Homo sapiens: one gene and its partners. The protein of the gene in region 2 purifies or fractionates together with the protein of the main gene of each other region. This does not show direct contact. Each region holds a gene or a part of one and is shown on either strand. Other genes may lie near its edges.

The links.
Region 1: the proteins of TMEM171 (region 2) and SLC25A24 purify together in Homo sapiens (affinity purification with mass spectrometry; 3 studies listed by BioGRID and IntAct, with this or other methods). This does not show direct contact.
Region 3: the proteins of TMEM171 (region 2) and TTYH3 purify together in Homo sapiens (affinity purification with mass spectrometry; 3 studies listed by BioGRID and IntAct, with this or other methods). This does not show direct contact.
Region 4: the proteins of TMEM171 (region 2) and MTX3 purify together in Homo sapiens (affinity purification with mass spectrometry; 3 studies listed by BioGRID and IntAct, with this or other methods). This does not show direct contact.

What each region holds. Positions count from the first base shown.
Region 1 is NC_000001.11:108,197,047-108,202,684, forward strand, and holds the start of SLC25A24 (mitochondrial adenyl nucleotide antiporter SLC25A24), read right to left. Parts: upstream 3,298-5,638; 5' UTR 3,093-3,297; coding exon 2,910-3,092; intron 1-2,909. UniProt on the Homo sapiens protein: Electroneutral antiporter that mediates the transport of adenyl nucleotides through the inner mitochondrial membrane. Originally identified as an ATP-magnesium/inorganic phosphate antiporter, it also acts as a broad specificity adenyl nucleotide antiporter.
Region 2 is NC_000005.10:73,126,361-73,131,276, reverse strand, and holds part of TMEM171 (transmembrane protein 171), read right to left. Parts: intron 2,888-4,916; coding exon 2,746-2,887; intron 1-2,745.
Region 3 is NC_000007.14:2,637,567-2,642,482, reverse strand, and holds part of TTYH3 (protein tweety homolog 3), read right to left. Parts: intron 1-4,916. UniProt on the Homo sapiens protein: Calcium-independent, swelling-dependent volume-regulated anion channel (VRAC-swell) which plays a pivotal role in the process of regulatory volume decrease (RVD) in the brain through the efflux of anions like chloride and organic osmolytes like glutamate.
Region 4 is NC_000005.10:79,984,266-79,989,181, forward strand, and holds part of MTX3 (metaxin-3), read right to left. Parts: coding exon 4,887-4,916; intron 4,380-4,886; coding exon 4,197-4,379; intron 4,051-4,196; coding exon 3,974-4,050; intron 2,843-3,973; coding exon 2,685-2,842; intron 1,395-2,684; coding exon 1,306-1,394; intron 1-1,305.

The DNA.
Region 1 (5,638 bases), on a different chromosome or scaffold from region 2:
TTTCACTAATTTCATAGTGAGGAGATTTGGAACATACAGAAAAGAAAGGTCATACCAGAAAAAAAAATGTAGCGCTTTCACTTCCAATTGGTTCTTAATTTTGTCTCAGGACTTGCCTTGAATTCTTTTCTCTTCCCTGGATAATTCTGGAACACTTAGTAATGGTTAGCTATTATATTCCTTATACCTATTTCTACATTCTACTCTTATTTCTACATTCTTTCCATCTAAAATCTAAAGAAACTTAAACAGAAATTTGTTCTCTTCTAAATGCTCAATTCATTACAAATGCTTGGAAACACGGAGATGAGATCAAATCAGATGAAAATTTATAGAGATTTTGCTTCAAGCTGAGTATTTGGCTTAGATACAAACTACTACCTTGAAACTTTCCACCGAAGAGTCACCCCACAGTTCTCATTTCTATGCTCAAGTAGCCAATGTCCTCACTCCTTGACATTACATAAACCCCTGACATGCCTCTGAAATTTTCTCCCATAAAGGTTGACTGTGTAATCCTAATTCTATCCCATGTGTGATGGTTAATTTTATGTATCAACTCGTCTGGACTAAGGGATGCCCAGATAACTGGTAAAACATGATTTCTGGGTGTGTCTGTGAGGATGTCTCTGGAGGAGGGTAGCATTTGAATCAGTAAACCAATTAAAGAAGACTGCCCTCACCAAATGGGTAGGCATAATGCAATCCTGTGGAGGATGTGAATAGAACCAAAAGGCAAAGCAAGTGCTACGTTTTGTTTGTCCCCACAAAAACTCATGTTGAAGTCTGATCCCTGATGTGGCCGTGTTGGGAGGAGGGACCTAGCAGGAGGTGTCAGGGTTACGGAGGCAGATCCCTCATGAATGGCTTGGTGTCATTCTTGCAGTAGTGAGTGAGTTCTCTCTCTCATGAGACTGAATTAGTTCCCTCAGTAATGGATCAGTTCCCTCGAGGCTGGGTTGCTATAAAGCCAGGACACCCCTCGGATTTTGCTTCTTCACACATGTCCACTTCCACTTTGACTTTCCACCATGTTGTGACACAGCAGGAAAGCCCTCCCCAGGAGTCCAGCAGATGCCAGCACCACGCTTCTTAAACTTCCCAGCCTGCGGAACTGTGAGCTAAATAAATGTCTTTTCTTTATAAATTACCCTGTCTCAGATATTCCACTATAGCAACACTAAATGGACTAAGACAGGAAATGAAAAGGAATTTCACCTGCAGAATAGGAGACTTTACAAAGACTGATACCCTGAATGAGCGAGGATGTGGAGAAGCAAGCACTGTCAGTCAAAAGAGTGAAAATGGGTCTAAGGTTTCCGAAAGGCAATACGTATCCCAGTTTAAAATGTGTGTTACCTTCAGACTCAGCAATGTCCACTCCTCAAAATTTATCTTACGAAAGTAACTGGACCAGAATGAGAAAATGAATACAAAGGACATCCATTGCAATTTCACTTACAATCGTTTTTAAACTATCAATAAAGTAAAAGGTGATTTAAAAAGAATTGGTAACATATACTATGACACAAACATATAACAGAATATGATGCAGTTACGTAAAAATGGTGATACAGCAGCAATTCTCAAGCTTTTTGATCTCAGGATCCCTTTACAATCTTAAAAATCATTGAGCACTCCAAAGAGCTTTTGTATATTGTAGGGACCATGGAGTTGTACCACTGAGATCTCCCTTCAAAGGCACCTACTGTGAGGAACACAGTTGACTTCCACTCTCTAGCCTCTAACCCTGGCATCTGCTGATGCACTGCAGCAAGGTCGTCCCTTTCCTGGGCTGCTTCCAGCCAATGATTGGACATGGTGGGGAACTCCAACTGGGCCATTTCTGGGACAATCAGCACAAAGTACCAAAAGTTGGTTCCTTCAAAGTATGAATAAAATACACAAAACTTTGGCAAGATTGAAGGGGAGAAAAGGATAGATATGAGGAATGAAATAGAGAACCTACCTACAGATTCAGTCAGAAGTGTTATAAAATCATCGGTGAGTATTATGAACCTTGGACAGAACAGGCAGTTTCAAAAAAAATTGTAACTTACTAAATCTGACTCTAGAAGAAACAGTAAACTGAAGAGGCCTATAACTACCAAAGACATTAAAAGAGAAGTGAAATATAACTATATAACAGTTGTTGGCCCTCATAGTAACCTAATCACTTTCCCTCTTTGGATAAGAGAATGCCAGTGTCAGGGAACGCTTCAACAGGGTTGGAGAAGTTCCACATATCTCCACCCTACTAAAGGGGCAGAAGTTCAGGGGCACAGTTAAGATGACTCAGAGAAAATGAAATTGCTCAGTCGCAGGTCAAGTCAACCCTTCAGATCAATTTATGTACCTAGGGCATTAACCTAGGAATGTCTTAAACAATGGAATGCCGCCATTCCTTCTCAACAGGAAGTGGGGGAAACACGCGATTGGTTTTCAAACAGTTTTCAAACAGTAGACAATACACATAGCTGCTGTAACAAAGCAGCTTCGAAAGAGATCGAATGTGTGCGCCTTTATACAAAACTTGGGACCCACTGAAGTCTGACAGCTAAAACGGATTACATGTCTGCAAGGTATTAAAACAGAAAACAAAGAACCTGGGATGGATTCAGGACAAAAGTGTCTTAAAAATTTAACAGTGCCCGTGGGCCAGAGTGTCCACAACACTCATTTTATCTGGACAAATACCAGTAGACTTTCGTATTATGACCCACTTCTGTTACCGGGGTCGCCGGTCGCGGCCCCACGCCCGAGTTTCTGAAGCCACCGGAGCGCTGGGCGCCACAGTTCCTCCTTCCTCTCCTGGCAACGCCTCAAGCCGCCGCCCTCCTCGGTCCTCGCAGTGTCCCCAGCGCCCGCAGCCCTCCCTACGCTCAGGCGGCGCCCCGGCGGCGACCCACCTCCTCGGCGTCCTGGCCCAGAGGGATGCCCAGGTTCCTGAGCCCCTCCTGCAGCTCGCCGATGTCCACCACTCCGTCCCCATTGCGGTCCAGTGCCTGGAAGAGGGTCTCGTAGCGCGTCGGCTGCTCCGCGTCCTGGCAGGCCGCGGTGGGCAGCACGAAGTCCCGCAGCCAGCGCAACATGGTCCCAGAGGCGCAGGCGGCCTGGCCGAGGAAGTCACGGGAGATCGAGGGCTGCGGGGCGAGACCGGGACCAGCGCGAGGCCGGGCTGGGCGGGGCGCGCGGCGCAACAGCGTTTGGGGCGCCGTCGGGGTTGCGGCTGCGGCGCGCAGGGCGCAGGGCGCAGGAGCGGAGACCCCACCCGAGCCCGCGCGGAGCGCAGGGTGTGGCCGTCCCGCCGCTGCTGGGGAGGAGCTCGCCGCGCTGGCCTCGGCGGCACTGGCCGGGCCCGCCTCCAGAGAGCCGGAAGTGAGGGAGCTGGGAGCTGGGTCTCGGGAGGTGCTGTGCGGACCCGGGGTCGACCTCTGCCCAGTTGCCAGTCCCGCTGTCAGCATGCGGGTCCGAGGAAGAGGCCCCCAGCAGGTCCAGGGCTGCAGCGTCAGCGCGTCGGTGGCTTGGGAGCGGGGTCTTGAAGACTGGTTACTCCACTTAAAGACCCTCTCGGGCCGGAGCCTTGGCGGTCAGCCCAGAGCTGCTTCTCTCTGCCTGGAAACTGGGCCATGGAGGGCATTGTCTCTCACGGATGTCTAATTTTTTCGTGGTTGCACACCTGGGATGGCGATTCTGCTTTAAAAAGCAGAGAGTTAAATCCTAAAGCATCTATTGGAGCAATTATAAAACAAAAAGGAGAAACTCCTGGATTTGTTGCAGAAAAGATCAACAGCCATCTGCGTGGGCAACGGGGAAAAGAAGGACTAGTTTGGTAGGCAGCTTAGCTAGGATTTGCCCGTGATTAAGCGTATAGAGTGTCTGCCAGCTGCACTTATCAGAAAAAACCACAGCGCCCTCCTCCTTCTCAAGATGGGTGCAGTTCCGAGGTTTGGAGCTTATTACTCAGGCAAGACAGAACTTATTACTGCCTAGCATGGAATAACGGAAGGAACATTGGACTTAACAGAGAAAGTACCTAATCCTTCAGGTGTGACATAGCGTCTCCGGGTAGTCTCTCATCAGTAAAATGAGAATATAAATATCTGCCTTCACAACAAAGTTGTATATTAGGTGTGAAAGGTCTTAATTCTCTAAGGCGCCAATCAAATGAGATATCATTAATTGTAATAATCCTGTTCATTCACAGCTGCGTAAGAGGAACTATTGTTGTACTGCTGTTTGCAGAAAAGAAGATACCTCTGTACTTGTAAATTAGGGTGTCTCACATCTTCTGAATCACTACACAGAAATCAGTTCCAACAACAGCCAGGAACTCAGACCCTGAACTTACCTCTCCTCATATCATTTTGTATGTTTAAGATATGTATGAATCTAGAATTTGTAAATTAAGGGCTGCCTGCTTAGTAAAATCATCTTGAAACTGATTTATCTTTTTATATTACTTCCAACTTCCAGTCTTATTAAGAATCATTGCCTTCCTTTGGAACTGCCTTCAAACTTCAAATTTTCTCTGTCCTTGAAAACCTCTTTTAATCTCTACTCTGAATACTCTGTACTTGAAGAGAGGTTGCTTGAACTAGTCATCTTACACTTACATGCTTTCATTTTACTTTTTATTTATTTCTTTTTTTTTTTTTTTTTTCTTTGAGACAGTCTAGCTCTGTCGCCCAGGCTGGAATGCAGTGGCACAATCTCAACTCACTGCAACCTCCGCCTCCTGGGTTCAAGCTATTCTCCTGCCTCAGCCTCCTGAGTAGCTGGGGCTACAGGCTATTTTACTTTTTTAAAAAAGTAATACTTAGAAAAATTACCTGTCAGCGTTTTTGCTGAGAAAATTATCTTCACACCAAAACTTTTACTTGAGGGTTTATAGCAGTTCTATTCATAACTGTCAAGCGCAGAAACAAAATGTTCTTTAACGGGTGAACTGGTAAACAACCTGTGTTGCATTCATACAGTGAGATAGTAATTAGCAATAAAAAGGAATGAATTACTGATACCTGTCAACAATGACATTCTGGAAAAGGCAAAACTATAGGGACAGAAAACAAATCAGTAGTTACCAGTTGTGACTAGCGGGAAGGGAATTGATGACAAAAGAGCATCAGAAGGCTTGTGGGGGTGATGGAGCTATTTTACATCTTGCTTTTGGTGGTAGTGGTTACACAACTGCATGTGTGTGCCAGCAGAACTGCACACTAACATGGGTTAATTTACTCTGGGATATCAATAAATCTGACTTAAGCATGAGTAAAATGGAATAAAAATTCTCAAAAGATCAGTGTGAACATCAAAACAGTTTATGAATAGTTATGAAGTATGGGCCACACACCAGCAGCATTGGTGTCACATCAGTGTTACTGTGAAAATCAAAGCGTTTATGAAGTGTGGGCCACAGACCAGCAGCATCAGTGTCACTTGGGAGCTTGTCAGAAATAATCTCAGGCCTGCCCAAGCCCACTAAGTAAGAATTGCACTTATACAAGAACCCTGGATGAGCATTTCATAAAGTTTGAAAAGCACAGCTAGTATGAAGCAAACCACTCGAAGTGCAACCTGTTACCTGTCTGCAATGAGTCAGACATTGAGAGGAAGGATTTAGAAACTTTATAGCAAT
Region 2 (4,916 bases):
TTACAGACACCATCCAAAGAGAACATAGACACACACACACACACACACACACTTACTGTTCTCTGCTATTCTGTCTTCTGGGACAGCTAACATAAGGTAGACAAACTTTTGCATATGGAAAATTAAAACATTAAGCCACAAACCTGAAGGACGGCAGGAAGGCATATTGGCTAATGGAGTGGGCTCTAACAAAGGCCAACCTGCACTGGAATCTACTCTGCTGCTTCCCAGCTGTGTGATCTTGGGCAAGTTAGTTAACATTGCTAAAGCTCAGTTTCCTTATCTTGAAATGAAGATGATAACATTCCTTTCTCCTAGACTGGATATGGGAGTTACATAAACTAATGCAAGAAAAGCCAGACCCTAGGACACAGAAATCATAGTAGCAGCAGCAGTAGTTTAAGTTACTAGACACTGATTTTAGGGTTTGGGGAAGTTTATCATTAGAAGAAAAAAAATACAAACATTCACGATGAGAATTCTACAGAGGTCCAGCCCTAGCCTGCCCTTTCTCCATGCAGGGCCGTTCCCACATGCACCTCCCTGGATCCCCCCATCACGACCCCATATGAAGCTGTAAAGCCAATTCTGTCCTTGTCAGCCACCTCTTTCCCTCTCCCATCAGATAACCTGTCCCCCTGCTTTTGTGGGAAAAGAATCTCTACACAACTTCATTCCCTCCAGGCCCCAGAGAAAAGGCACCCTGGCCCCTGCTCCAAGGCCCACTGCCTGCTCTGTCAAGGCAGGGTGGAGAGGGAGTTCCTTAAACACGAATAACAAGGTAAGGTGGTGCTATCCCCAGCAATGAGCACCAGTCTCTCTGTGCCTGCTGCTCACTGCATGCAAAAATGCACATATCTCATTGTCTTACCTGCTTCACCCTGTGACAATGTGAAGCAATTCTTCCTTCCCTTCCTAAACCCTGGTTTCCCATTCTAGAAGGTACCACCAGAGCCTTCTCCAGCCCTGCTCCCTGAGCACACCATTTCTGGGGTATGCACAAGCCCCTCCTGGGGGTCTCCCACTAGTCCCTGACTCTTTGCCCTTCTGGTTCTCCAACAACCTCTGCAGCTCCATCTCCATCACCTCCTCTCTCTCCCAAAACCCAGCCCTTCCCAGTCTGCCTCCAAGGCCCTCATCTCACTGTACCGCCACCATCAGCCGCCCACCATCCTTTCCCCACCGAAACCAAGCTCATCACTCACGTCTTCTCAGTTGGGGACCTCTGAGCTTCCCTGTCACTCACCCTGGAACTCATCATCTTCGCCTCTTCCTCAATGTCATTCTCCATCCAGACCCCCTCCCCCAGGCTCCTGGCACCTCAGGCCCGTCCCACTAGAGCCTGCCTCGCTGCATTCTGTGTGGGGTGGGTATTGACCTGATATTCTCTGCGGCCCAGGGAAGGAGCGAATATTGAAGGAGAGGCCCAGTTGTGTTGGATCGGGGCTCAGGCTGACTTTAGCCAGTCACCCAAGCACGGCCATCAGAGTACTAAAGCCCTTCTGTAACTGTTGGGGATCCCCTGAGACCCTCACACCTCTCCATGATCTAAAGCAGTGAAGCCTAGCATAGCAGGGGCCTCCTGGCCCAGTCCTGGTGCTCAGTCTGATTGGTGGGTCATTAAACATTCTTTTTTTTCCCCCTGAGATAGAGTCTCTCTCTGTTGCCCAGGCTGGAGTGCAGTGGCGCGATCTCGGCTTGGAGCAGAAGAATAGGGTGTGGAGGCAGGGAATCTACGGCCGTTTCACGCTGACTTCCTAGAACTAAATTGAAAGGAAAACCCTAACTTTCCACCCCTGAGTAACAAAAGGACCAAAGACTACTCCCTTTGCAAACACCCACCTTTCGGCAGATGGGAAATTGAAAGTGCCTCTAATTGGTTGCTTTTTGCAACCAATCAGACATTTGCATAGGACAACAACTTTGTAACTTCACTTCAGCCTCTGATTGGCTGCTTTCTGCAACCAATCAGACGGATTGTGGGCCACCACTTCATTTACATGAGGTGAACACAAAGTGGCCAATGGGAAACCTCTAGGGGTGATTTGGACCCAAGAAGATTCTGGAACTGGGCCCTTGAGCAGCTGTTCAGGCTTGCTCCCACCCTGTGGAGTGTACTTCCATTTTCAATAAAATTTTGCTTTTGTTGCTTCATTCTTTCCTTGCTTCGTTTGTGCATTTTGTCCAGTTCTTTGTTCAAAACACAAAGTACGTGGACACCCTCCGCCGGTAACAGGCTCACTGCAACCTCTGTCTCTTGCGTTCAATCGATCCTCATGCCTCAGCCTCCCGAGTAGCTAGGATTACAGGTGCCTACCACCATCCCCAGCTAATTCTTCTATTTTTCGTAGAGACAGGGTTTTGCCACGTTGGCCAGGCTGGTCTCAAACTCCTAAGCTCAAGTGATCCACTCACCTTGGCCTCTCAAAATGCTGGGATTACAGGTGTGAGCCACAGCACCCGGCAAGGGTTGTTAAACATTCTGAGTATCACCCCTGTTAGGAGCACATAAAGATAGATGCCTGGAGTAGGCTTCATATTAACCCAGCATGATCACTTTATCATTTTTAACTTATGTGCTGCCCAAATTTCGGCAAAGGTACTGTTAATATCAAGACACTAATTCTGACATAACATCAGCAAAAAAGATACTCACACTTGAATGCCTCCTGGTGAACCACACAGCCTTAATACTAGTGTGGCCTGAATTCAGGCCTCTCTTGAAGTTCAAATTGAAATTCTTACCCATAGTTGAAAATACTGTAATATGAAGGGGGGTTTTCATTCGGAAGCAGACTGTTAGTTCCAGGACTCTCAGCGACCGCAGAAGCTGAAGATTCAGGAAAGTAAGGTGGTGGAGGGGGTGGAAATATTATTACCGAGTCACCTAAGGCAAAACAATATTTAGTTGACAACAGGTGGGTAATAAATGGAAGCAAATTAGCAAAAGCAAAATTAATTATATATTTGGCCCATCTATATAAAAGGTCAACACACCTGCTGCTAACTCCAAAATTTAAAAGTAAGCCCATTAAATGTATAGAGATAGAAAAGTAGACTAGGTTACCAGGGGCTAGGAGGGGTTCGGGAGGAGGAAGGGAGTGGGAATTGCTGTTTGGTGAGTACAGAGTTGCTGTTGGGGATAATGGAAGAGTTCCAGAAATTGATGATGATAATGGTTGAACAACATTGTGACTGTATTCAATGCCACTAAACCATTTAAAAACGGTTTGGCTGGGTGCAGTGGCTCACACCTATAATCCCACCACTTCGGGAAGCTGAGGAGGAAGGATCGCTTGAGCCCAGGAGTTGGAGACCAGCCTGGGCAACACAGCGCTATCTCATCTCAAAAAAATTAAAAGAAAAAATTTAGCCAGATGTGGGAGTACACGCCTGCAGTCCCAGCTACTCGGAAGGCTGAGATAGGAGGACTGCTTGAGCCCAGGAGTTCTAGGCTGCAGTGAACTATGATTGTACCACTGCACTCCAGCCTGGGTGACAGAGCAAGACCCTGTCTTAAAAAAAAAAAAAAAGCCAGGCGTGGTGGCTCACGCCTGTAATCCCAGCATTTTGGAAGGCCGAAGCGGGTGGATCACTTGAGGTCAGGAGTTCAAGACCAGCCTGGCCAACACGGCGAAACCCTGTCTCTACTAAAAATACAAAGAAAAAACAATCAGGCAGGCGTGGTGGCAGGCGCCTGTAATCCCAGCTATTCGGGAGGCTGAGGCAGGAGAATTGCTTGAACCCGGGAGGCAGAGGTTGTGGTGAGCCAGGATCATGCCACTGCACTCCAGCCTGGGTGACAGAGTGAGATTCTGTTTCAAAACAAAACAAAACGAAACAAAAAGCAGTTTAAATTGTTTATGCTTTATATATATATATATATATATATTTTTTTTTTTTTTTTACCACAAATTTTTTAAAAGTAGGCCTACATTTCAGAATCCAGAGTGCTGACAATTATGGTATGAAAGCAGGTCTATATTTTGTAGCAAGTCTAAGACCAAGCCTTTTTGTGAATTGTTTGCTAACAAGCTCCTTTCCCTCCTCTGGGGTGTCTACTGCTGAAAAAGCTTTTCTCGTTTTCAGCCTACAACTTTAATTCACAAGTTAGCTGTTGGCTAAAGTGCCTTGTTCCTCAAATGTAGTTTCAGCCCCTGAGCAAATGACAGTAAGCCATATTACAGCCCCTAACTGTTATTTACCAAAATTTCACCCATACAGATGAAGGTTGAACCCAAAGAAGTTTGGTTTTTGCATTTCTGTGGCTACTGTTCACTCCAGAATACATCCTCATGTTTTGAGGAGAAACTAGGGACCAGATGCAAACTCTAATTTGTATTCCGATTCCAATATAAAATGCACCACACAAGTGGACCAGAACAGTGTAGAGCTCTGGCAGCACCACTGCTGGGGGCCTGGTGAAAGCCTCTGAGAAGCTGGCAATAGCAATAACAGTTCAGAAAAAATGAAGAAGATGGGGCTTTACTTCCCTGTAGTGGTTCACACTCCTAGCATGTCTGATGCTTGCTTAGGGTGGCATAGGATTCTTTAAAGTGATGGGGGTTCCAACCTGAACAAGCTAGGCGACCTCCTTGACCTCAGCCGCCACAGCTGTAAACTGCAGGCCAGGCAGTTCTTGCATCACAGGACAGATAGAAGGAAGGACTAGATGGACTGATTTGCATCTGGCAGTGAACACAGTGCGGAGCACAGAGCCAACTCTCTCAGCTCAACACCAGCCGAGGGCACTGATTTGCATGATGAAGAAACACCACAGAGGCAATTGGCCACTGGCTCCACTCTCTACCCTTCATGAGCCACAGCAGCCTCAATCATTTCCCAGAGGGAATTTAGCCCTTCAGAAAATGCATTAATTCCATCTCCCCTTCCTTCTCCAAGGAGAAGGCAATGAG
Region 3 (4,916 bases), on a different chromosome or scaffold from region 2:
GCAACCTCCACCTCTCAGGTTCAAGTGATTCTCCTACCTTAGCCTCCTGAGTAGCTGGGACTAGAGGCATGCACCAACACACTTGGCTAATTTTTGTATTTTTAGTAGAGACGGGGAGTTCACCACGTTGGCCAGCCTGGTCTTGAACTCCTGACCTTAGGTGATCTGCCATCTCGGTCCCCCAAAGTGCTGGGATTACAGGCATGAGTCACTGTGCTTGGCCTCTGCCCTAATTTTTAAAAAAATTTTTTGTAAAGACAGGGTCTGGCTATGTTGCCCAGGCTGGTCTTGAACTTCTGGGCTCAAGCAATCCACCTGCCTCGGCCTCCCAAAGTGCTGGATTACAGGTGTGAGCACCGCGATTGGCTGAGGCAGCTTTCTCTTGTTCTTGCCTGGATGGGGCCAGCTGCAAACGGAGCCTCGCTCCTCAGCCCCTGGGGGCCAGAGGCCAGGCTTCGGGGCCCCTGCCAGGACAGCCTCACTTGGCTTCCCCCAACTGAGGAAGGAGATGGCGCCTCCCTCAAAGGGAGCCCACTTGGGCTGCCCGGGTCCCAGCCCACCACTGCGAGCATGCAGAGCCTGGGTGTCAGGGTGCTCAGCAAACCGGGCAGCTGCTTCATCCCACGTCAGAGCCCCGGCACCCAACGCGCCAGGCCTGAGCCCAGCTGTCTGCGGGGAGCGTGCCGTGGCCAGCCTGGCCTCTGCACCCACTTCCCGAAGCCAGATTCCCAGCAGACGGTCTCCTGCGGGGCACCGGGCCAGCGGCATTCCTACGGTGGCCCAGCCACCTCTCTCCACCGGGCTGGCGGCCCCTCCGCCCCTCCCTGGCCCATTCAGAGAAAGAATGGGAACTGTCTGATCAGCAGCTGGGCTCTGACCAAATGGAATTTTCCGTCTGTGGTGGAAGTGATGTAAGGGCTCGGTCAGGCGAGGCGAAAACTGCACGCTGGGTTCCGCGGAGCACACGGAGAGGACTCAACTGCCACACATGTGCCAAGGGGGCTGGGGGCGACCCCCTCCTGCAGCCTCAGTCCCCCTGCCCCCACCCTAGGGCTCCTGGTCTCGGCCCTGGGCCACCCCCTCCTTCTCCAAGCCCCTGCAGCCCCACAGCCACAGACGGCATCCATGGGGGATGCCCCCTCCCACCGTGAGCCCAGACTCCCCCGACTGCCCCGCAGCCCCCAAAATGCAGCCCCCAAAACCCCACCAACTCTGGAAACACCCAGCCAGCCAGAGAGCCGGGGCCTGAAGCCTTACTCTGTCCCAGATCAGGTTGCTACCGATAGGATCCCAGTATACCCTGGGCCAGAGCAAGACCTCCCTGGCCTGGCAGGGATGCCTGGGGCACTGGCTGGTGAGGAGCGGGCAGGGCTGGGGTGTGGCTCGGGGCAGGGCTCTGTGGCCTCTACACCCAGGCATATGCTGTCCCTGGGCCTGGAGCCTTCCCCTTCAGGGAAGCCCCATTGTCCCCATACACAGGCCATCTCCTCCAGGATGTCCCCAGGATATTAGAGACCCAGGCCCAAACCCGGTGCTGCAGCCTTTGCTCTGTGTGAACCTCGGCTGGCTCCGCACTTGTAAGGCGAGACCCCCAACCTGACCTGGCTGCCTGCACAGGTGGGTGGCCCCAACCCAGCCCTGCTTGGAGAAGGGAGGGCCCAGTGAGCCACAAGGCCTTAGGACGGCCCACGGGGCACTTGAGCAGACGACGTGCACGAGCAGCTGTGAGGCCTGTGCCCCACGCCTGCCGCGGCCTCCTGGCCATGCCCACTCTGCCTCCAGGCCCTGTCTGGACGTGACTCCCATCAGCCACACAGACACAGGCACCCCCCAACGCAATGCCAGGCTCAGCGCCAGCACAGGCCACACCACACCAGGCTGCCAAGGTGGGAGGGCCATGCATGACAGCAGGGCAGGGCACACTGCCTGCCACCTGCACAGGTGGCTGCTGCTGGGCATCCTGGTGGCTCCCGGAGCACCTGGTGGCAGGACCTGGGCCTGGCAGCGTGTGAGGAAGCATGCCACTCGGGAGGGTGCACAGCAAGTCACGGCCGGCCTATGGAACACACGTCCCCCCCCACACACACACAGGCGGCTGCTCTACATGCACACGCCTGGGAGCAGCTGCCCACCCCGCTACCCTGCGCCACGGACCCACACGCCGCTCTGTGCCACCAACCTGTGGGCTACCGTGGCGCGTGGCTGGGCTGAGGAGGCCCTGGCCCACTGGGGGGTGCTCACAGGGACTCTGATGAGAAGTTTGGCCCGATGCAGCCTCCAGCCCCAGCCACAGGCAGTGGCCACGATCCCACCACCCTGCCATTCCAGCCACGGCTGCTCGCTCCTCGGCTGGACACTGCTGCGGGTCTGCCCTGAGCAGGGAGGGAAGCGAAGACATAGGGCCCGTGTCCTGGAGCCACGCTGCTAGGCACAGGGAGTTCCAGAGTCCACAGTCACACAGCGGGGGCGGGTGAGCTGGCAGGCCAGGCAGCGTGACCACAGCTGAGGATGATGGCTGCCCGAGGCATTGGGAGAGACCAGCGAGCCCCAGGGGTGCAGCCACGGGGCACGGTGAGCAGGGGTGGCAGGAGAAGCAGCCCCCGGTGGCCAGAGAAGGGGTGGGCAGAAGGTGGGTTCCAGCCCTGCCCCGCCCCTCGTGCCAGCTCCGTGTGGAAGTGACACAGCTTGGAGGAGGGAAAGGGACAGGCTCCACAGAGGCCACTGAGGGGCCAGAACCCCACCAGAGGTGCCGGCATGTGACAGACACACAATATGGTAACGGCCACACAGCCTGACTGCAGTGGGGACAGAGTCACCCCCGGCTTCCTGGATGGGGACGGAGTCCCCACACTGACGGCTGTGGTCCTGGCTGGGCTCCGGGCTAATTGGGAGCATCAGCTTCCAGGGCATCTTAGCAGCAGCTTGCGCTGGGTGCTGGGGCCCAGGCTTGGACAGACAGCTCGGCCGCGCTAGGTCGGGGGCTCCCCTGTGCCCACAGTGCTGGCCCCGTGAGCTCGGAGGCTGTGGGAGGCAGGAAGAGGAATGAGGCGGTCACTGAAACTCCCGTTGTGGGGAGCATCGTGGGTACCGCAACAGGTGGGGGAGGGCACTCTTGGCCCGGGGACAGTGTCAGCCAAGGCCTGGCACAGGGTCCAGGCGGCAAACGTCTCCTGCATGCCGAAGATACACTGGCAGCAGGGACCAGCCAGGCCCTGGCCTGAGCCTGTGCGTATGGCAGCAGCACGGGGCTCCGGGAGGACGTGGCAGGCGAGAGGTGGGAGTGGGAGGGGAGTGACCCCCACCTGCCTCCACGGATGCTGAACTCCAGCCCTGGAACTCCCAAGGCCCCTCCTCCAGAGGAAGCAACAAGGTTTGGGGGTGTCTGAGAGGCTGGCTGGGGTCCCACACCCCAGTGCAGACCGAGGGGTTCTGGCCCCCAGCACTGTGAGAACCCCCCAGGTGTCCTGGGCCAGGGTCAGGAAAGGGGCGGGATCCCTAGGGCCCAGACTTGTTTGGGGAGGCCAGGGTGGGCTCGGCGTGTGCGAGCCACTACCACCACCCCCATGTCAGGGGCCCGCCACTGGGAAGTGGGTCCCCCTACCTTTGCCTCGTGGGTCCCCTTGCACAAGTGGGGGGTCCAGGGTCACAGTCTTTGGCTAGGCCTCAGCCCCCCATGCGGCCAAGCTGGACACGTGGCCCCAGCCCCTACCCATAGCACACTCGGCCCAGGCTCCCAGCGACACTGGCCCAAAATTAAAAACAGATTTTCCACCAGGCTGGGTTTGGGTTTCACGCATTCCATGACGGTGAGCTCCTGGCCGTGCCTGGAGGACGTGCAGCCAGCAGCGGCCACGTGGGAGCCGGGGTCGGGGCCAACTTTGTGTCCCTGTCCCCAACTCCTGAGGTCCGAGGTCCAGGTCGCCAGGCTGCACATGGCCCCACACCCCCCGGGGCTCCCTCCGGGCTGGCCCTCACCCTCCAGGAATGGCCTGGAAGGAGGCCAGAGAGGCAGCCCTGGGGCTGAGGCTCAGAGCCGCTCCTGCCCGTCTCCCCACAGGCCGGGCCCCTTTCCTGCACCCTGTAGCCGGGGGACCCCAGCTCTCCCGCTGCCCACGCCCGCCCTCCCCCTCGTGCAAGGAACAGACACCAAAGAGCTGCAGCAAGCGTGTCTATTTTGGTCCCCGTGCTCCGACACATCTCCCAGCGTGACACCCGGAAAATCCCCTGCTCTTCCCACTTGTCTGCAGCCCTCTGCACCAGCTGCCTGGGGACCGGGCCCCAGGCCTCAGACCCAGCCAGGAGCCGCCAGACTGGAGCCCCATCTCCGGGATCAGCTCCCTACCAGGGAGAGGCAGCCCAGAGGGCACGGCCGAACCCCAGACACAGGGCTGCAGGGCTCAGAGCTGGGTGCACCCCAGAACTTCAGGAGTGCTCTTCCACGATGGCCAGGAACCCAGCCAGCGTGCACAGGCCCGAGGGGGGCAGAACGGCTAGGGGCACTGTGGCTGGTACCCTCCTCAGAGGCCGAAGGCACTGGCACTCTGTGGGTGGCCCGGCTTCCTCCCACACCCTCGGCCAACATGGGCCTGACCCAGCCACAGTGGGTGCTGCCCCACAGGACTCAGGTCTCAGCCAGCCTCCCAAGACTGTGAGAAGCCCCCTCGGATGGTGTGAGGCCCAGCACAGGGCCTGGGTGGGCTCCCTGCAGAACATAGCGGCAGGCCCGGGTACAGGAGGCCCTCCTGTGACCCTCCCACACCCACCATCCACCCGCTGTCACATGCCAATTCCCCGGTGGCCACGTCAGGCACTTCCCATGTCCTTGACCCCAGGCCCCTGGCTGCAGATTCGGTTCCTCTTCTCTAGCCGAGGCCTCAGCAGAACTGACGGTGGGGCAGGTGGGGGAAGTGTAGATG
Region 4 (4,916 bases), 6.9 Mb from region 2:
GTCACAAGCTAGTATGAGAGCTGAAACTTGAACCCAGGTCTTCTGATTCCAAAACTATTATTCTTTCAACTATACTTCTTTACCTCAATGAAAATGACCTGTATTCCAATCAAAAAAGACCAGCTTTTTAAAACTGAGAATATGTAGACCAAAGGAAGCTAGTACATTAGGCAAAAAGAAAGATAAATTCTTTAAATGTAATCCAGTGGTTTTCCAAACACTGGATCACTTCTAAATGAGGTAACCCACATCAAGCTCAAATAACACAGTGGTGGACCTCAAAAACTGTTAGCCAGTGTCATCAGGCCTCATTGCCCTATGAGTTTGTAAAATAGTAAGTATTACTATTTGTATCAGGAAAAAAAAAAAAAGCAAGCTTATCAGTTACAGGGGAAAAAATATGTAACCTCTTTGTATTTTTCCTAGTAGAATCACACTTGAAATTTCCTTTGTTGGTTCTCTCCCCTACCCAGTTCCTCAATGTTTCTCTCATGAAAAGAACACCCCAAGTGGCAAAATATCTACACTGGTGAAAAAACTATAAACTATATCTAGAGCAGAGAAGAACAAGAAGGAGAAAAAAATAAAACTTTCATGTGGAAAGAAGAAAAGAACACGGTGCTGTTAATAAGAAAGGATAAGCCCAGTGCTTACAATCTTAAGAAACATTAAGAGACAGAGAGGCAGACACACAAGCAAGAAGTGTTTTTGCTTTGTTTTTTTTTGTGTTTTTTCTGATGGAGTCTCGCTCCGTTGCCCAGGCTGGAGTGCAGTGGCACGATCTCAGCTCACTGCAAGCTCCGCCTCCCGGGTTCATGCCATTCTCCTGCCTCAGCCTCCTGAGTAGCTGGGACTACAGGCGCCCGCCACCATGCCCGGCTAATTTTTTGTATTTTTAGTAGAGACGGGGTTTCGCCGTATAAGCCAGGATGGTCTCGATCTCATGACCTCATGATCTGCCCGCCTCGGCCTCCCAAAGAGCTGGGATTACAGGAGTGACCCACCGCGCCCGGCCGCTTTGTTTTTTTAAAGCAAATCTTTTGGATTTCCTAGCTTAAAGGGTACTAACTGTGTGGCAAAAGTAAACCCAATACTCTTATCTGATCTTTCCCCAATCAGGCCACTGTTGGCTTCAAAACACTATGTTACATACAACTTTAGTGAAAGTATATTTAAACAGTTTTCTGAAAAACAAACTCTATAAAAAAAACTAAAAGGGTACAGTTAATGTGTGACCCAAATGACAATATTAGCTACCGAAAGGAAAATACTGAACTATGATAAAATGATTGAAGTAGACTTGACCTTTTCAATCAAGTTGGATTCCTTATTTACAAGTTGTGTGAGTTTCTGCAGATTTGCATCTACCGTTTCTTGTCCAGCTGGAGAGATGCCTAAGAAGCCAGGACAGAAATCAGAGAAAGACAGGAAATTTTTAAAGCCTTTAAAGCTATTTAGATTGAAAGAATTTTGAGTCTACCCACCCTGTCCAGTGCCCCACCCTCCCCAAAAAAGGCAAAGAGGAAAACCATTCTGGGTTTAAAGGCGAAGAGAGGGATTCGAATGCTCTAAAACTAAACCCTGAGCAAAACGGACAAAAATTTATCCACTAAGTAGACACTGCTAACCAAGTGTTCTGCAATTGGCCACAATAATTAGTTTTTTTTTTTTTTTGAAAAAAAAAGCACAGTAGTCCTCATTTCCTTCTCAAGTTTAAGCTATTCCTTTCTCACACCCATTTCAAATAGGTCTTTGGTCACAACTATCTGGATAGTTTTCTAAGGCAGTAACTCCCAAAAAGTTGCCCACCAGACATCCAAAGTATTCAGAAGAACTTAAAAATACAAATTCCTAGGATTGATGCCTAAAAGATTCTAATTTAGTAAGTCTGGAATAGGACCCAAGATTTTTTATCTGTCAAATAATCAGGTTTGCTAACCACTGCTCCCAAGTTAACACGGTTGAACATTACTTAATTTCATGACTCCCAAACTACTAACCCCTTCCTGTATACAGAATACATAACCCACCAAAAAATAATAAACTGTCCACCTAAGCCAGCTATCTTTATAACCTGTTTCTTAAAAGGACAATTTCAGCCAACCATCCCAATAGAAATTTAGTATCTGAATCACTTAAGCACAAGGCTCCACTCTCTCAATGAAGCACATCCTAAGTAACAGGTGCCCTCTATTTACTATACTTCCATTCTGATGCAATCAGTTTTCAAGTAGTGGAATCATGGCAGTGTACCTCACCAAAATCAATCTGCTGCTGATTTCTGTTCATGCAGGAAAATGCTAGAAGCAGCAGGTAAAAATCATTTAAAGTAATTGTCCATTTGCATTAGGATAAATACTGTTTTTCAGCAAAGACTTAATACCTGTGGTTTTAACCTTTTAGAAGAAAATGACCCACTTCAAAGGGGTAATATTTAAAGAACAAGAAGAAGAAACGTAAAAATCCAGCGGAATAGATAAAAGGCAAATATCTATTTATCTATTTAAATAAGAACTAACATGAGAATAAAAATGAAGTCGGAAAAACACAAATCCTTGAAGTGCTATAAACCACTATTTAAAGACAATACACAAACTTCTAAAATTAAAATAAGTAGTGGATTTTGCTTATACATACATAGGAGAATATGCAAACAAACATTAGCTGAAAAAGAGCCAGCTTACCTCCAAGACTAAGCCTAAAATAACTGCTCAGGATGTCATCACAAAAGCGACAGAGGTTGGAGAGCTGTTTCAGATGTTCTTGTAGCTGAACTTTAGGAAACCGTACTTTGTAAAGAGGTGCAAGAAAACCAAAAACATAGGCATCCAAGGTAGAAGGCCTAGAAATAAATTAAGGATTTTTAAAGCACATAAGACAATATTAACTGAAGGCCGGGTGTGGTGGCTCATGCCTGTAATCCCAGTACTTTGGGAGATCAAGCGGGGGCAGATCACTTGAGGTCAGGAGTTCCAGATAAGCCTGGCCAACATGGTGAAACCCTGTCTCTACTAAAAATACAAAAGAAGTCGGGCGTGGTGGTGGGCACCTGTAAACCCAGCTACTTGGGAGGTTGAGGCAGGAGAATTGCTTGAACCCAGGAGGCGGAGGTTGCAATGAGCCAAGATCATGCCACTGCACTCTAGCCTGGGCAACAAGAGCAAGACTCCATCTCAAAAAAAAAAAAAAAAAAAAATTAAATTAAGGATTTTTTTAAGCACATAAGAAAATACTAACTTGGGATGGTGTTTAATTTTTTTTTCAAAATTCTCAATTCTGAATTACACAGTATAGTCTCTTAAAAGGTTTACTATCCATTTCAGTTTACAAAAATTATGCAACCAAGGTTTTACTCATTGAGTAGCTTAGACTCTAGGAGAAAATGAAATTGTCTTTATAGATTCATTTTTACTCACAAATGTTAGACTGGAGGCAGAGTGGGAACAGTCTGAGATGTTTTAAATTCACATATGCAGCCTATTAAGTCAATGTTAGATTATCACTGGTAGAAAAAGTTTCCTATAATAAAAGCCCATTAAATTTTTTTCTTGTTTGTTTTGGTTTTTTGACATGGAGTTTCACTCTTGTCACCCAGGCTGGAGTGCAGTGGCGTGATCTCAGCTCACTGCAACCTCCACCTCCCAGGTTCAAGCGATTCTCCTGCCTCAGCCTCCCAAGTAGCTGGGATTACAGGTGCCCACCACCACACGCAGCTAATTTTTTGTATTTTTAGTAGAGATGGGGTTTCGCCATGTTGGGCAGGTTGGTCTTGAACTTCTGGCCTCGGGTGATCTGCCCAACTCGGCCTCCCAAAGTGCTGTGATTACAGGTATGAGCCACCACACCGGCCTAAATCTTGTTTTTTTTAAGTAAAAAACTCATCTTTTGGGGAGATAAGAGGACTTGCTTTAAATAGCTGCTCACTGAATATATGTGCACAAAATACCAAAATGATTTTTAAGGGAATACTCACGTATCTCCAAAGAAAAACTGAGATGTTCCCAATCTGTTTGATAGAAGATTTAGGCACTCCTTGGCATCTCTGTATATCTAATAAGGATGAAATTATATCTCAAAAGTAGAAAAGATACTCTAAAACTACTTTTGAGGAAGGCATCTCTAGGTAAACTCAAGTCTGCATTTTATCTTGTCCTTTCTCTCTAGGGCCCTTGCTTGAAGAATAATCCATACTATACCTGTGCTTCCACTTCTCGGAGGTGGTAGAGGGGAGGCTGTCCTCTGGTCAGGAGAATCCTATTCAGTGCTCCCTTAGACATTCTTCCAGGCAGGATCAAACTCAAAGGAAAAGGAATTTGTGAAGCAAACCATGGCTTTGTCACAGTAAAGTAATTGTCACTCTCAACCCAGAATGTGTGAAGCTGCAAAAGAAGAGAAAAAACACTACAAGGATGTTCTTTTATTAAATGAAAGATCACTCAATCAACATGAGAGTTTTTCATAAATATCTTTATATGAAGTGTCTTCATACAAATTTTCCAGTTAGAATGACTCAGGATAAAACAAGATTATTTTAAATGTGTGAGTTTTGTTGACTGCTATCTTCCAAACACCCAGAACAAGGCCTGACACATAGCAGGTGTTCAATAAACATTTGTTGAATGAATGAATTACACCCAATTCTATACATGGAGCAAAAAGATCCATCTCCCACAAAGAATTTCCAACATGACATTTTATTTTACTTTGTTGTTTCACATACTAGTTGAATGCCTAACAGAATCCAGTTTCACAGTAATATGAAGGAATTAAGATTAACATATAAGTAAAATTTTCTCTTAAGACTTTTCTCATTGGTTTTTTTCTAAACAGACTATGTACATTTGCAACTAGGCTACTAAAATACTGTAATATTTAAGAACACTCACCACTGCAGGGAGAAGCTTCTCTTCGAGGAG